Regions from separate parts of the Homo sapiens genome. Here region 2 is linked to region 1. A link means that fine-mapping ties the variant in region 1 to the expression of a gene that starts in the linked region. Tissue or cell type: monocytes after LPS. Region 1 holds a variant in brackets; the other region holds the start of a gene. All regions are shown on one strand. Distances are between the middles of the regions.

The links. PIP is the estimated chance that this variant, and not a neighbour inherited with it, causes the effect.
Region 2: it holds the start of HECW2, and the variant in region 1 is fine-mapped to the expression of HECW2 in monocytes after LPS (Fairfax 2014, PIP 0.95).

Annotation. Positions count from the first base shown.
Region 1 is chr2:196,342,870-196,350,977 of GRCh38, reverse strand. It overlaps HECW2 (HECT, C2 and WW domain containing E3 ubiquitin protein ligase 2), which reads left to right. Exons shown (of 29, transcript NM_001348768.2): 3 at 7,214-7,321. Among named protein-coding and RNA genes, the nearest start is that of HECW2-AS1, 87 kb to the right of the region's middle. The variant TG/G (reference allele first, on the strand shown) is at 3,970.
Region 2 is chr2:196,589,498-196,597,605 of GRCh38, reverse strand. HECW2 (HECT, C2 and WW domain containing E3 ubiquitin protein ligase 2) reads left to right here and starts at 4,052. Exons shown (of 29, transcript NM_001348768.2): 1 at 4,052-4,098. RefSeq lists silencers at 4,094-4,363, 4,444-4,823.

The DNA of each region.
Region 1 (8,108 bases):
TGTCTAGGGAATGGATGAGGAAACAATGTCTGGCTTAGATTTGTAGACTTCTCAAAGGAGATCTCCGTAAACTCTTCCAAAGACACTTTAAACCTAACAGCTCAGAACCATATGAATCAAGCACAGACACCAGGATGACTAATCATTCCTCCTCTTTTTTCCTCTTTTAACAAAACATGGTTACCTTTACCATAGTAATTTTCGCATTGCATTATATATCTATGTGCCTTATCCCGTCAGCTCCTTATGGCAGGAAATATCCCCCCTTATCCCGTCAGCTGCTTATGGCAGGAAATAGATGCTTATGGTCTTCATAGTAGTCAGTCAATAAATACCTGTCAAATGAATGAATGAATGAACAAGGTAACAAATGAGAGGGACAATGGTCAAAGACATATGCATGGTCCACAGCATTGCTGTGATTGCTCAACTTCCCTGGAAATAACCATGAAGCAGAATTTTTCAAAATGTGGTCTTTATGGTACTTGCATCTGAATCATCTGGTTGGGGTGCTTGCTAAAATTCAGATTCCTGAGCCCAGACTCAAACCTACTAAATTCAAAGTCTCTGGAAGAGCAGCACAAGAATTAGCATTTTATTTGTTTATTTTTTTAAGACGGAGTCTCGCCCTGTTGCCCAGGCCGGAGTGCAGTGGCACAATCTCAGCTCCCTGCAACCTCCACCTCCCAGGTTCAAGCAGTTCTCCTGCCTCAGCCTCCCGTATAGCTGGGATTACAGGTGTGTGCCTCCACACCCAGCTAATTTTTTGTATTTTTATTAGAGTCGAGGTTTCACCATGTTAGCCAGGCTGATCTCAAACTCCTGACCTCAAGTGATCTGCCTGCCTCGGCCTCCCAAAGTGCTGGGATTACAAGCATGAGCCACCATGCAGGAAGTAGCATTTTAAAGAAGCACCACCCACCCCCTCATTCATTGTGAGCCATGAAGTTGGGCATTCGTTGCCCTGGAGGATCAGGTAGCTAAAAGAGATGGTGACCCGTGAGGATCTGTGACAGTGAATGTGCAGGAGATTTTGGTAAGTCTGCTTATATAGAGATTCTGTTTAAGACCCCTAGGTGTTCCTCCTAAAAATAATGTGGTTTTAATGAAGGAAAAGGGGCCTATTTCTCACCTCATTAACAAGCTCTGAGAAGTTTCTCTGTGTCATTATATAGTTAGTAGAAGAGGGTTGTGTGTTGTAATCTTCTATTTCTACTCTTTTATCTCCTGGGTCCAAACACTTTGTTTCTCCCTTGAAGAAGCAGAATTAACATAACTAATTCCAGTATTAGTAACAGGATTAATGGGAGTAGCTCTAAGTTGTAATTTAAAATAATAATAAATGAAATCACTTTGGATAAGTATCATGTTCAGGCATGGTGGCTCACATCTGTAATCCCAGTACTTTGGGAGGCCAAGGTACGCATGTGTGCGCGCGCACACACACACACACACACGTTTCACTTTTCTATTTAGAGAAAATGTGTAGCCAACTAGACTTGTAAGAGAATGAAGAAGTCGTGAGACACAAAGGGACAAGCTTAATATAAAGCCTACCAAACAAAATTAGATTTAGAAGGTATTTGGGTATATATGTATTAACATCTCCAATGTCCCTTTCTTTGTAATTATATTTCCACTAGGAAGTAACCTAAGAATCTAGAATATATACTCCTGTAATATAGACTGTTTTGTAACAAAAAAACAGACACTTTAATCCTAGTACGAGAGGAAATAGGAATGAGGATGGGAAAGAAGGCAAGGAAGGTAATAGTCAAAGAACAAAGACAAAAGCAGGAGAATATGCCTCATGGAAGCTGACAGGTGTCTAGGTTGAGTGGAAGGTCCCTCTAGAGAAAAAGGTTAAATATTAAGATGACAGAAAGTGACTGGTGGAGAAGAGGGTGCCGCAGGCACCACTGTAAGGGGGAGTAGAACCCTGGGCAAGAAGGCAAGAAGTAGGCACAGATACAGAGGAGATAGTAGTAGGGAGATGGAGAAATCAAGGGAGATCAGGCCTAATGTCCTCTTGGATGCCACAGAATGCATGAGTTTAGGGACACAGAGTTCACACAGAGTTCCAGTGAGGGTGGAAATTAGGTAGGGGATGTGAGGACAGAGACAGATTTGGAATTGTTAAGAGAAACGAGAAAGGGAAGTGGCCAAGTATAACTTGGTTTTAAAGACCAGTGGCATTCTATGATTTGTCGGAACCTTTACTCAGTTAAAGGAAGAAATAAAGTTATAATTACTTCTATATTACACATGTGGGGGATTTAGAATTGTTTCTTTGATATACCTTTTTATATTCAGTTATTGTTCTTTTTTTTGAGTTAGGGTCTTGCTCTGTCATCTGGGCTACAGTGCAGTGGTGCAATCGTGGCTCACTGCAGCCTCAAACTCCTGGGCTCAAGGGACACCCCTGTCTCAGCCTTCTGAGTAACTAGGGCTACAGGTGCATGCCACCATGCCCAGCTAATTAAAAAAATTTTTTTTTTGTAGAGACAGGGTCTTGTTGTGTTGCCCAGGCTGGTCTCAAACTTCTGGCCTCAAGCAATCCTCCTATCTTGTCCTACTGAAGTGTTAGGATGACAGGCATGACCCACTGCACCTGGGCCCACTATTGTTCTTACTTTGGGTTGGGGGCATTTTGAAAAAACCAAATCACCTCATACAGGTACTAAATGAGGATAAAAAAGAATAGTTCATTGAATATAGGAAAAAAAATATGTTGGCCTATACAAAAAAATCCATGAACAATAGAGCTGAGCAGAGAAAATGCTACCACTCTAAAATGATTCTCAGGCTAGACCAAAATTGACTGCAACGTAAACAAAGATGTGAACAAAAAATTTAATCTAAAGGACTAATTAAAATTGATCTTCTTGGAACAAAGGAATTAGTCATTCTAGGCATTTCTTAGCATGATGTGCCAAGGCTGGCCATAGCTCTGCTAGCCACAGTAGGAGCAGTGGCAGTTGTAGAGATTGTAGTAGCCATTTCACAGTAATGTGAACTCTGTGTCCCTAAACTTATTTCTCAGGATTCATATTTGCAATTAAGGGTTGCTGCCACTCAGTGGCGGAAGTATTTGTATCTGTCAAGGATAATGAATTATCAAGAATATGATCACATCAAAGAAAAATTTCCATCTAGAATAACCAGAATATTAACTTGAGGGTCTCTTACTTGACAAGCACCATGGTTGGCAAGGAATAACGCAGCAGCTTTCCTTCCTTATGAAGGCCAAAGGATGGTCACTGGCCATGGCATTTGAACTTGTTTTCTGTAATCAAAACAGGCCCATCCAGCTTCTGCTCAGGGTCAGCTCATTCTGCTTCTGACCCATTTTTTGTCGTATATGGAACATTTGTGTTCTGTGTGAACCTGAATACTCATGGTACAATTTACCCATTTGGCTTCAAAGGGCTAACTTTTATTTCTTTAAATGTCACAGATTTCACCAGGCCAGGTGTGGTGGCTCATGCCTGTAATCCCAGCAGTTTCAGAGGTTGAGGCAGGCTGATCACCCAAGGTCAGGAGTTCGAGACCAGCCTAGCCAACATGGTGAAACCTCATCTCTATTTTGTATTTTGTATTTTGAAAAATACAAAAATTAGCCAGGCGTGGTGGCTTACACCTGTAATCCTAGCATTTTGGGAGGCCAAAGCAGGTGGATCACGAGGTCAGGAATTCGAGACCAGCCTGGCCAACATGGTGAAACCCCGTCTCTACTGAAAATATAAAAATCAAAAAAATTAGCTGGGCGTGGTGGCAGGCGCCTGTAATCCCAGCTACTCGGGAGGCTGAGGCAGGAGAATCACTTGAACCCAGGAGGCAGAGGTTGCAGTGAGCTTAGATAACACCACTGTACTCCAGCCTGGGTGACAGAATGAGACTCCATGTCAAAAAAAATAAATAAATAAATAAAAAGTCACCAAACGGAAATGGAATTTTTTTTTTTTTTTT[TG/G]AGACGGAGTCTCACTCTGTCGCCCAGGCTAGAGTACGGTGGCGTGATCTCGGCTCACTGCAAACTCCACCTCTCGGGTTCAAGCAATTCACCTGCCTCAGCCTCCCGAGTAGCTGGGATTACAGGCGCCTGTCACCACGCCCAGCTAATTTTTTTGTTTTCTGTATTTTCAGTAGACACAGGGTTTCACCATGTTGGCCAGGCTGGTCTCGAATTCCTGACCTCGTGATCCACCTGCCTCAGCCTCCAAAAGTGCTAGGATTACAGGTGTGAGCCACTGTGCCCGGCTGGAAATGGAATTTTCTACATGGCCTATGAACTAACCAGGGGAACTAAGGCAGAGTTACAGAGATATAGAGTTTATCCCAACCTACAGGAGCTGGTGGGTGGATTGAACACTTAACTCTAGGCTTGTTTCATGGTAAAGGGTCTGGGAAGAAAGCACACGTTATTTATTCTCCCTTATTTCCTACTTCTGAGACTAAGCAAGGGTATGCAAGTAGTACAATATTTATACCTAGAGATGAACCTAACTAGCAAAGGAAGTGATATTAGTGACCCACTTAGAATAAGAGATGCTGACACCAGTTCTCTGTCCAAGCTCCCTTCTAGGGACCATGTAAAGGAGCCTCAGGATCTCCTCTGTCCAGGGTTCAGGCCTCATCCTCATCCCATTCCTACCCATCCATTCTAATTTTTGACCCTCACTGGTCCATGTTCCCAAAATTGTCATGTCAGAAATGCGTTTGGATTAATTTATTGGCTTAATTGATTGCCTGGGGAGAAAAAGTTTAGTAATACCAAATAATGCATACACTTTTACAGTGAGGTCACATTAACAGGTACAACTTTTTTACAGTTGCTTTTTATCTTCTTGATTCTAGTACTTGCTCCTTAAAACCAGATTTGATACTGCCTCATCTTTTCTGAGGCCTCAAGAGGAAGGAATCTGTTACAACAACGTTTTTAGGAAATTTCCCATGTACATAACTACTTTTTTAAAAAGCTTTGTGAATAGGTGGACACCCTCTATCTCCTATGTGTGTGTTCTCTTTCTTTTAGAGTCCAGCCTTCTGTGCCTTCCAAGTGACCAGTAGCTAATAAGTAAATTTATTTGTGAAAATAGGAGAGTTCTTCTCCCAGCATCCAAGCAGCTCTGCTAATTAAAGTATCTTTCAGAAGGTGAAGCAAATACCCTTGTTGTCTAACCTGGAGCAGTGATCCAAACTTGAGGATTCCAGATCAAGTCAGAAATGATGAGTCTGAATCACTGAGTGGTTTTTAGGATGGGTATATCTGTTAAGAATTGTGTGTAGCTGCAGGTAACAGAAACACAACCACAGTGGCTTAACCAAATGGGATTTTTTTTTCCTAGGTAGCAAGAAGCCTGAAGGCAGGTGGGTCAGGGCTCAATGGATCATCCTGATTGCGTCTTGCTTCTTGCTCTGCCATCTTAGCAATGTGGCTTTACTTCAAAAAGAGGGGACAGGGAAGAGCAAAAGGATGTTGAGTTTGTCCTTTTCTTATTAGGAAAATTACAGTTTTCCATAGGGTTCCACCTAGTAGACTTCCACTTACATTTCACTGGGCAGAACCAGGCCACATGTCACCATTAGCTGGATGGGATTTTGGAGAGGTATTTTTAACAGGGCACATTGTTGCCTTGAACAAAATTGGGGTTCAGTTGGCAAGGTAGAAGCTCAGTGGTTATGCAGCAAGCAGGGTCTGCCCTGAGGAGCCATGTGATACCTTTCAAATCCAGTGATTTTTAAGTGATTGCCCGAGTACCATCTAAGTATCAGCATCTTGGTTATATTTCTGTATGAAATGGAGTTGTTTGCTCGCATTGTTTATCTAGGAGAGGATGTGATGCCATGAATGGGTTATGTCTTTCCATTCTTATAAAGAACAGTGGCTGCTTCTTGGCCTTTCACAGTAAAGAACCTTTGACTTATAATGTGCTCAATGCAAATGCATGAAAGGACCATCCCTCCCAAAGTTCTTTGGCTTTTCAATATGATGAAACTAGTAGGGCAACCACAAAAAAAACCAGAAATCCCTCTGTCCCCTTGCTTTGACCCATTTTCTGTTTCTTTCATGCTTAAAAGAAGAAAGGTTTTTCTCCTCAGGACTATTCCTTTGGGCTTGGGACCTTTTCTCCATCTTTCCATTTTTAGTGTAGCTCATACTTCACCCCGTCTTCTTTATTCCAACTCTCAGTTAAAGTGCAACCTTAATCCTTCCTCCTTGGAAAGGGATTTGGGGAAACAAATGAGGTACATCTGGCATTAAGAGCCAGGATCACTATATACTTTTTAATGTGCCTATAAAACTCCAAATTGTCTCCTTTTCGTGTTTTCTAGTTTCATTTCCTATTCTGGGCCACTAAGACAGAGCTTCAAACTAGTGTAATGTGAGCAAATTATAGAATATGAATCCCCAGTCCTCAGGGTGCTGGGGGCAGAGTCTGAGGAAGCCAGAGCATCCCTGCCTGTCATATTAAATTGTAATCATGGCCTCTGTTGAATCTAGTGTTGCCATACAAATACTACCACTTTCTTTGTGCCATGAGGTCAGAAAGCTTGGAAAATGCTGCTTTCAGGCCTTTTGGGGGGATCACTGTTCTTTCTATTCTTCTTCAACACAAAAGCCTATAGAGACTCTTTTTTTTTTTTTTTTTTTTTTCTTATCTTGTCTCAAGGTCTATGCCTTTGGTCTTTTGCAAAGGACTGTCCTGACAGATGTGATGAACTTGGTTTGTGTTCCCTAAACACTGTTCCTGGCAAAGCTGTGCTGTATCTTGACTCACTTTCGTAGCTTAACGTCCCTTTTGTTCATCCCATCTTGAATTCTGTTATATTCTCCTAGGTCTGTTCTTCCTTTCCTTTTTATAAAAGCGTTTTACAAATGGGAGCACACCCAACCCCTTTGTTATAAATCAGCTCATAGCTAAAGTTGTAGCAGTTGTACCCTTTGTTCTTTGCAGTTTTGTCTTTTGGCAACATTGACCACCTTGGCCAAGCCCAGAGATGCCATCTTCTTTCCCCCCAGCCTTCTTTCTCCCACATAAATGCAAGCACAGAAACTCGGGTAATACTCTGCTGGGAGGTAGTCATTAAGAATAATGTGCATTATATTTTCTCATTTATCTTTTTTCCATTTATTTTAGAACTTATGTTAATCTTCCTGCTACGGAGAGAAAGGTTATAATTAATCTGAAAAGTGTTTCTTTGGTTTTTCTAGATGAGAATTCTCCAGCCAACTTCTGGGATTCTAAGAACAGGGGTGTGACTGGAACACAAAAAGGGCAAATTGTATGGAGAATTGAGCCTGGGCCCTATTTCATGGAACGTAAGTAACTAAGTGTGAAATATAAACTTATTATTGAACATTGCATAAGTATGCAGAATTCTATGGAGTCTTTTTGAATGTTATTTTGAAATTCTTTGGTTTGGATTTACATATTTATGCCATGATGGAAAATATATTGTTTTAGAAAATGCTCAGTAAAGAATGTTCACATATTTTGAAAAAACTGTATGTGTTTAAATATACAGTTAGCCATCCATATCCGTGGATTTCACACCTACAGATTCAACCAACTGTGGATCAAAAATATTCAGGAAAAAAAAATGTCATTTTGTCTCTACTGAACAAGTACAGACATTTTTTCTTATTATTCCCTAAACAATATGGTATAACAATTATTTGCATAGCATTTATGTTAGGTATTATAAGTTATCTAGAGATGATTTAAAGTATACGAGAGGATGTACACAGGTTATATGCATATACTCTGACACTTTATGTAAGGAACTTGAGCATCTGTGGATTTTGGTATCCCATGGGGGTCTTGGAACGAATCCCCCGTGGATATCAAGGGACAACTATATAATATGTGCATGTGTGTATATGTATATACACACACACACACACAAACATACACATTTACATATATATGCAAATATTACATGTACATACATATACATGTATATATACAAAAATATATATAGTATATTTTATATTTTACATATACATAATGTATGGTATATAAATTATATATGGTTACTTTAATACTTTACACATTTTTATATACCCTTTATATCTATAATTAATATTTATTCATATGAATTTCAGA
Region 2 (8,108 bases), 250 kb before region 1:
TCCTGTAATCCCACCTACTCTGGAGGCTAAGGCAGGAGAACTGCTTGAACCTGGGAGGCGGAGGTTGCAGTGAGCCAAGACCGCGCCACTGCACCCCAGCCTAGGCGACAGTGACACTCCATCTCAAAAAAAAAAAACCAAACAGCAACAACAACAACAACAACAAAACAACCTTACAAGTATTAGATCACCAAATACAGAAAAATACCACGATCTTTAAATTAATTAACTGCCTGACATACCTCTGTGATATGTCTTTCCTACGTATTTTGGCTTTATACTCTTTGATTTATTCTTCATATGAAAATGATTTTGTGACATTATGTTCTATAGAGTTAATAGATATTCCAGTGTTTTCACTAGTAAAGTTGACTAAAATTTGTTTTTATTACTGATAGTTTAGAGGAGTTTCTTTTCAGTCCACAATGCATTATTGGGAAAGTAACATATTTTTAGGATTGTTTCAAAATTTAGGAAAATCACTATTAAATTTATTTCACATATAAACAATAAGATGTGGGAGGGTTTTCCATATTCTAGTTCTGAATCCGTACATACATTTCAAACATCATTTACCCCGTTACCCATATACTTCTGTGCTGGGTGCTGAAGTATGCAGTTATTAATACTTGGTGGTATAATTTCCATCCCTTTACCTTTGTGTCACAACACTGAAGGGCCCAAGTGACTGTCTTTGCACAGTCAAAATAGACATCACTGTCACAACTTTAATGCCCACAGACCACATAAATGTATTCCACTTAACCAATTCAACTTCCCTTTAGCCAGATCCCCACAAATGTCCACAATCACTCCACTTCTTTCGGAACAAGGGGAATTAGGACAACACGGAAGTTAGAATGAAAAGGGACAGCAGTCTTGTCTTAATTCAAGCTGCAATAACAAAGCATCCTAGACTGGGTGGCTTATGAACAACAGAAATTTATTTTTCACAGTTCTGGACGCCAGAAGAATGAGATCAGGGTGCCAGTGTGGTTGTGATGTGGGTGGGAAGGCCCTCTTCCAGTTGCAGACTGCCATCTTTTCTTTGTATCCTCAAGAGGCAGAAAGAGGGTGAGAGAGCTCTCTTGGGTTTCTTTTATAAGGGCATTTATTCCATCACCTCCCAAAGGCCCCACCTCCTAATACCATCACATTAGGGGTTAGGATTTCAACACATGAATTTGGGGGAGCACAAACATTCAGTCCACTGCAAATCGCTTGAGATTAAAATATCTTACTTTGGAAGCTTTTATAAAAATATAAGACCACATGAACATGTCTCTCAGGCTCCTTCTGTGTTGTTGGAAGAGGGCTGGAGTATAAGTTTCTTGGAATCTGCCTTTGGGTTTAGCTTTGGCCATATGCTTTAGAAGGAGCAGTCACAAACCTTGGCACATCTGTAGAAAGGAAGTAACCTAGGATGATGAAGGGTCAGGACACATTGCCATGTGTCCTGCATGACTTATGGGTCATGCAAAGATCTTGGAAAAGAGACAATTCAAGTGGTTCACAAGTTTGTCTTCAGTGCTTGGAGTACTCTCAGGTGGAAGAAATATTTCAACTCAATATAAGGGATCACTTCCTAATGTCAGGCCAGTTTCAATGCAGAATTGACCAGCTTGTAAAGTACTGAGTTCTCTTTAAGGGAATGGCTCCAGGAGAGGATAAGTGAGACCCGGTCAGAGATCTTGTGAAGGAGAGTGGTGGTGATGACGAACGGGGAGTGCAGTGTGAAAGAACCTACCTAATCTTTACACACCTTTGCAAGTTTGAGATTTTTAGGATGACTTTGCTATTAATGTTCTTTGATGCCTTAGTCTCGGTTTTAATGGTCGATATGTAGAAAGTTTTAAAGGTAGTAGGGGCTGCTTTTAAAGTGAGAGAAAAATGTTTTTTAAGACCTAGGGCAGCAATAGTGATTCACTTTGCCTCTATTCATTTTTAGGGTTCTTCTTTCTCCCTCCTTTCCTCCCTTCCTCCCTTCCTCCTCTTTTCTTTTCTTTCTTTTTCTGTTTTTCTTTTCTTTCTTTCTTTTTCCTCCTCCTCCTCCTTCTTCTTCCTCTTCCTCTTCTTTTTTGACAAGGTGACAGGGTCTTGCTCTGTCTTCAAGCTGGAGTGCAGTGGTGCAATCACAGCTCATTGCAGTCTTGAAATCCTGGGCTCAACTGATCTTCCTGCCTCAGCCTCCAGAGTAACTGCGATTACAGGTTCAGGCCACCATGCCTGGCTATTTTTATTTTTATTTCTTTCTTTATTTAATGTATTATACTTTAAGTTCTGGGATATATGTGCAGAACGTGGAGGTTTGTTACATAGGTATACACGTGCCATGGTGGTTTGCTGCACCCATCAACCCATCATCTACATTAGGTATTTCTCCTAATGAGATCCCTCCCCTAGCCCCACAACCCCCGATAGGCCCCTCCTCCCTGATGTGATGTTCTCCTCCCTGTGTTCATGTGTTCTCATTGTTCAGCTCCCACTTATGAGTGAGAAAACGCAGTGTTTGGTTTTCTGTTCCTGTGTTAGTGGGGTCTCACTATGTTGCCCAGATTGGTCTTAAACTCCTGGCTTCAAGAGATCCTCCTGCCTCAGGCATGATTACAGGTGTGAGCCACTGCACCTGGCCCATTTTGACTAGAATGTAACATAGTGGTTAATCAACACAAAGAAGCTAAGGATTGCAGGTGTGGGGTTGCTGGATTTGAGTAAGTTGTGAAGGAGAACATCATGTGGGAACAAACCTCTAGGATCCCTGTTCTTCCAGCAAGAACTGGAATTGGGCCTTTTGTGGGGTGGGGCTCTTTGATTCTGTGGAGGATCCTAACAGTGATGCCTGGGCTGATAGATCCAGGGGACTAAGAAGTCAGGGCTCCTCTGAGACATGTGACAAAACACAGCTGACACTGACTTGAAATAAAAGAGAGAGGATTTATTGGCTTCAAGGGTAGAGTTCACTGCAGACACATCTACCTCCTGAGGTTCCTGAGAGGGTGGGACATCACCCTCTCACCAGCAGCTTTTCTTCCCTCAAAGTTGGCTTCATTGGCATGCACTGTTGGTCCTTGTTACCGTAGGCTTATATCCTTCCAATTTAGTTATCCTAGTTTAAAGAGCTTATTTTTCTGCAGTAATACATCCAAAGCCCTAGGCCGAGTTCCTGGATCAACATGCCCAACCCAGAACCGATCACTGCGGTCCGGAAGATGACTGGCTAGTTCTGGGGGTTGAGGGTGGGAGGTGTCAGTACCCTGGAGCCACAAAGACTCATTGTGGGTGAGGGGGAAGGGCAGTTCCCATAGGAATAATGAACTGCTGTTACCAGAAAAGGCGGAGAAATGGATAATATTGAGCACACACTCAAAAGTCCCAAAGGAATGGCTATCCATTATTTGGGGACTTACTCCATATGGATATAGTTAAATTGTAAAATTGAATAAATCTTCCCTAAATCTGGACAGATGCAAGGGTGGGTGGGGAGGGACACAATATATTTACACTTTAGCATTTTTACTTTTTCTCCTACGTGGGACTGGTTGATGAAGATGCTATAGAAGTAAACAGAAAGCCGAAAGTATTAATACAGTAATTTTAAATTTTAGTGCCCTCTTTAGGCAAAGTATCTGGGAACGCTTTCAATAATCCATTTTTTCATCGTGACCACACCCTGTGTGTGCGACATGAGTATTACCGTCTTGCCCTTGCAGTTGGGGAAACCGAGGCATGACACTCCCCTATTCAGCTTTCTGGTGGGGTTGAGGAACAGTGTTGTCTGCACGACCTCAGAGGGTCTCCTCCACCCTCCGCGACACCTCTAGGAATCCTCCTGTCCTTCGACTTCGCAGAAGGAGAGCAACTCAGGCTCCGCCGCAGCCTCGGGACTCGTCCTCCGCCCAGCCGCACCCGCCCCGTTCTTCCGCACCTTCCTCAGGGAGGTCCCGCTGGCCAAGGTCTGGCTGTCCCTCCTGTCCTCTGCCCCCGCCTCCCTTCCACCGGTCCCCGACGTGCCGCCAGCTCCCAGCCCAGCGTCCCGCAGGGCGGTGCGGGCAGATGCCGCCGAAGCGTCTAGCGGGAAGGGCGCCGGCGCGGCTGGAGGTGAGGAGGCCGGACTCTTCGCTCTCCGCGGACCGGGGCACCGCGGCTGGAGCGGACGCCCGGCACCCGGGCGGGAGGAAGGTGGCGGCAGGGAGCGGCGAGAGGGTGGCGACGCAGGCGGGTCGGCGCCTGGAGAGCGAGCGGCGGGGAGCCGGGCGCTGCGGGGCCGCTCGGGGCCGCGCCGCGCTCGGCCACAAACCTCCCGGAGGCGCAGGACCCCCGGCGCCCTCCCGAGCGCGGGCGGGAGCCATGGCTTCGCGCGTCCCCGCTGCCGCTGCTGACTCGACACAATCGGCGGGTCGCGCGGGGGCCGTGGCGTAACCCGGGGGTGGGTGGCGGCGCGGAGCCGCCTCGAGAGCTCTGGGTGTCGCTGGGAGCTAGGAAGATGCCAGCACAAAGGCGAGCCGAGACCCAGCCCGCTGCGGAGGGCGGCGGGAAGAGCCGCTGAGGGGCGCGCCGAGCGCGCTCTGCCCCTGCGCCGCGTCTCTCCGGGCGCTTCTCGCGGTCTCGGGGTCGGGGACTGCAGCGCAGAGACTCTCGGCTCCGTGGCAGCGGCCGCAGCAGCCGTGAGCTGCATGCAACGCGCGGCGGCGCCCCCGGCCGCCTGCTTTCTCCTCGGCGCGCACGGACCGGCCGCAGGGCGCCGGGGCCGCGGGTCCGGGCGACTTTGGGGGCGCCCTCCCGCCCCGCGGCCGGGTCCCCACCCGCAGCTTGTGGCGACGGGCGCAAAGCCCAGGTGAGCGCGCGGCCCTCGCCGCAGGTAGCGGACGGCGGGAGGTGGCTTTGTTTTTCCTCCCTTGCGCCCCGGCGCGGTCATTCATTTGCCATTTCGGTTTCCGCTGCCCAGGATGTGTTGGATGGTTTGGTTCTCCAGGGAAACTGGGACTTTGGGGTCTATTTGAGCATCAGTTGAGGGAGAGGACGCTTCATTTCCTTTTTGGTTGGGAATGTGCCGTGAACATCCTCTGCTGGAGCTTGGGGCCTGGAGCAAACTGGGGCTGCAGATTTAGACGTAGACGTTTCCGAGGACGCGAGACTGCAGAGGTCTGACTCTCTCATGCCTTGTCTTCACTATTAGCAGCGCTCGGGTGCTTTTCGTCGTTTATTATTATTAATTTAGAGAACATCTTTACAGGCACATTTCTTTTAGAGTTAGAAGTCTTTGGAGTCAGTACAGAGAGCTCACAATTAGAGTTACAAGGGTTCAATCGATATTAAACTTCAGGAAGGAAAACATTTGTGATCATTACAGATAGAGGTGGACAGCATGCAAACTTCGGGGGCCTTTAGCTTTTGGGTTATGATTTCTGCTTTCACTGTCCTAGACTCACGCAAACTGTTTTCGTATATATATACCTTTGTGAAAGTGTGAAACTTGTCTTTTCTGGAGTAGTGTTCTATAGTTTGTCATTTAGAAGAAGAATATTTTAGTGTAATTAGTAGAGCTCTCCATGTGTTTGTCTTATAAATATGATTTTCTTTTTACTATTTCTCCTATTCCCTCGAGGGTTCATTTCTTCTGTTGCTTTGAGAGAGCTTTTTTTCTTTCTCTTCCCAACAGATGGCTGTATGTTCCAAGAGGTTATCTTTAAAATGACACACACATTATCTACAAAGAAAGAAAGATCAGTTATTGACTTTATCTTTGGAGTTATTAAAATAAAAGGCCTAATCTGGATGGGGATATTATTAATGGCGTGAAAATCTGGAGTTTGCTAATCTGTTTGGTCATCAGAAGATTCCTGCGGGGATTGTTTATATAGCGTGGGAGACAGATGGCATCCCTAGCAGACTAGAGAAGCCAGGCATAAAGGGTCATTGTATTCTTCAGAAATTATCCACTTCACTATTAGAGGTGGGGTAGGGTGGGGTGGAGGGTGGCAAAGACATTTTGATCTCTTAAAGGAGACACTGTAACGTTACTATCCAGCAGTCTAACCAGCTTTAATTTTTCTTTTTGTTGAACATTCAAAAAGTCCCAATTGAGCTATTTGTTTTGATTATTTCATTGGCACATTTTGGCTTCGATGTGGTTGTGTGAAGCAGTTTATTAACAAAAATGTCTTTGAACTTAAAAATAATCGTGCTGCTTCTGGGGGAAAATCAGTTGCACCTTTCTTAGCTCTTGTATATAAATGGCCCCTTGGACTCAAACCGTCTTCTGGCTGGAAAGACTTTAGTCTTCATTAGTTTGAATCCAGTTTCCTTCACCATCTCCGTGACAGGTGATTTCCAAATCCCCACCATTTGGCCGCAGACTCTGAGGTTTGGGCACCATGATGATTTCCCAGTCTAAGACATTCGCTTCACCATCGCCTCTATCACGGTATTGGGCAACATTTGGCAATGAATCTTTATGAATGGCTGTGGTGTCGGTAAAGAAATCAAAATCATTCTGAACATTTGAGATAAACCAGCTGGAGCTTTTCTGCGCCTACCACTGTTGTGGATTATCTATGTGTTGTGTAGATTGCAACCAGATCACAAAGCTAGTTTTCCCTCTTTATGAATGTGAAGGAAAATATTCCAGTAAATTAACATTTGCCAGCCACAGGACTAAATTTAATGAAGATTATGAGCAATGTTTGACCCCTCTGAACAGGAGACAAAAAATAAAAGTAAGCACTGGTTCTGTTTCACTTGGGCAATGTGATCTTGGGAGAAAAACCTATATTTTCTTACTCTTTTAAAAGGCTTTTGCAACACTGATTTCAGCCAAAGGCAAAGAAACCAAGGTTGTTACCTGTAGTTGAGGACAGATGCTTTGGCGTTTTCTCCTAGATGAATGTGTTTTGCAGGAGAGGTGGCTTTTGGGATCTTCCCAGTTTTAATATGTGCCTACACATCAATGAAATGATCTTGCATTCAAAATGCTTGTTAAGTCTATATGGTTGGTATCTGTGTAACCTCTAACCAGGTGGCTTTCTCTGTTGTGAAGTGTTCCTTTAAGAGAAACCAGAGGCTTCTCGCCTGGGGCTTGCTGTGGGCCTGGCCTGGATCCACATTCTTGTGCATTGCTGACTACTTTCTTGGGAAAAACTGGAACCAGTTTTGCTTGGTGTGTTGGATAGGGAATGGCAGCATTGGGTGAAAACCTTTCCAGCTCTGTTATCAAAAGCCAGGCCTGGCCTGAAAGAGGGAGGACTATGTTTGAAGTTTGATTGATTTAACAGAGGCAGAGGTTGCTTCATTACACACAGGATGCCTTTTGTATCAGGATATGAATGAGAGATTAGAAAGGTGACGAGATGCCCTGCTTTGCTTGTGACAGTGCCAGTTTACTCCTGTTGGTTTATCTTAATTATCAAAAGCACCCCCTTTCACATGTAAAAGTGTCCTGGTTTGGGTGATAATTATCTGGTCACCCTAGATATTAAGGAATCCTGAATTTTTTTCATCACCCCTCTTCCGACACCAGATTTTGAGTCTTGCCTTATTTCAGTCTTTTATTTATTAAATGCAAAGCTAGAAAATCAGAAAAATTTAAACCTGAAAAATATATAAGAAAAAATGAAATAGGAGGAAGGAAGATAGGAGAATGAGATAATTGCTTGTCATCTATTTACACACATAGTGAATAAAATAGTTTTATTCTTAAGTTACTAAGCATCTGCCGTGGCTGTAAGCCCATATTATTATTGTCTTCAAGCACAATATGAATTAACACCTGTCCATATATCTAGAGCTGACACTAATTGGGACAAATCCTTTGATTTGGGAGAGCAGTTTCTACAAAACCTGTTTGCAGACCTAGTGGTTACCATGGCTCTTAGAGGTAGGAATGCAAGTTTCAAGATCTAGTGTCTGGTCCAGATCTTGGATATTTACTGAGATTCCAGAACACAAGTGTTGTTGTGAAGACTTGATTCCACATTCTCTTAGTTTCCAAGCTCTCAGGGCCATGAGGATAATAGGAGGGCTTTTGTTTTCTGTACTCCCTTGTGTCTCCAGTGTTTGGTTTGGGTCTCAGCTTTTCATACAGAGGGGTCGCAGAGAGGGAGAACTGTTGT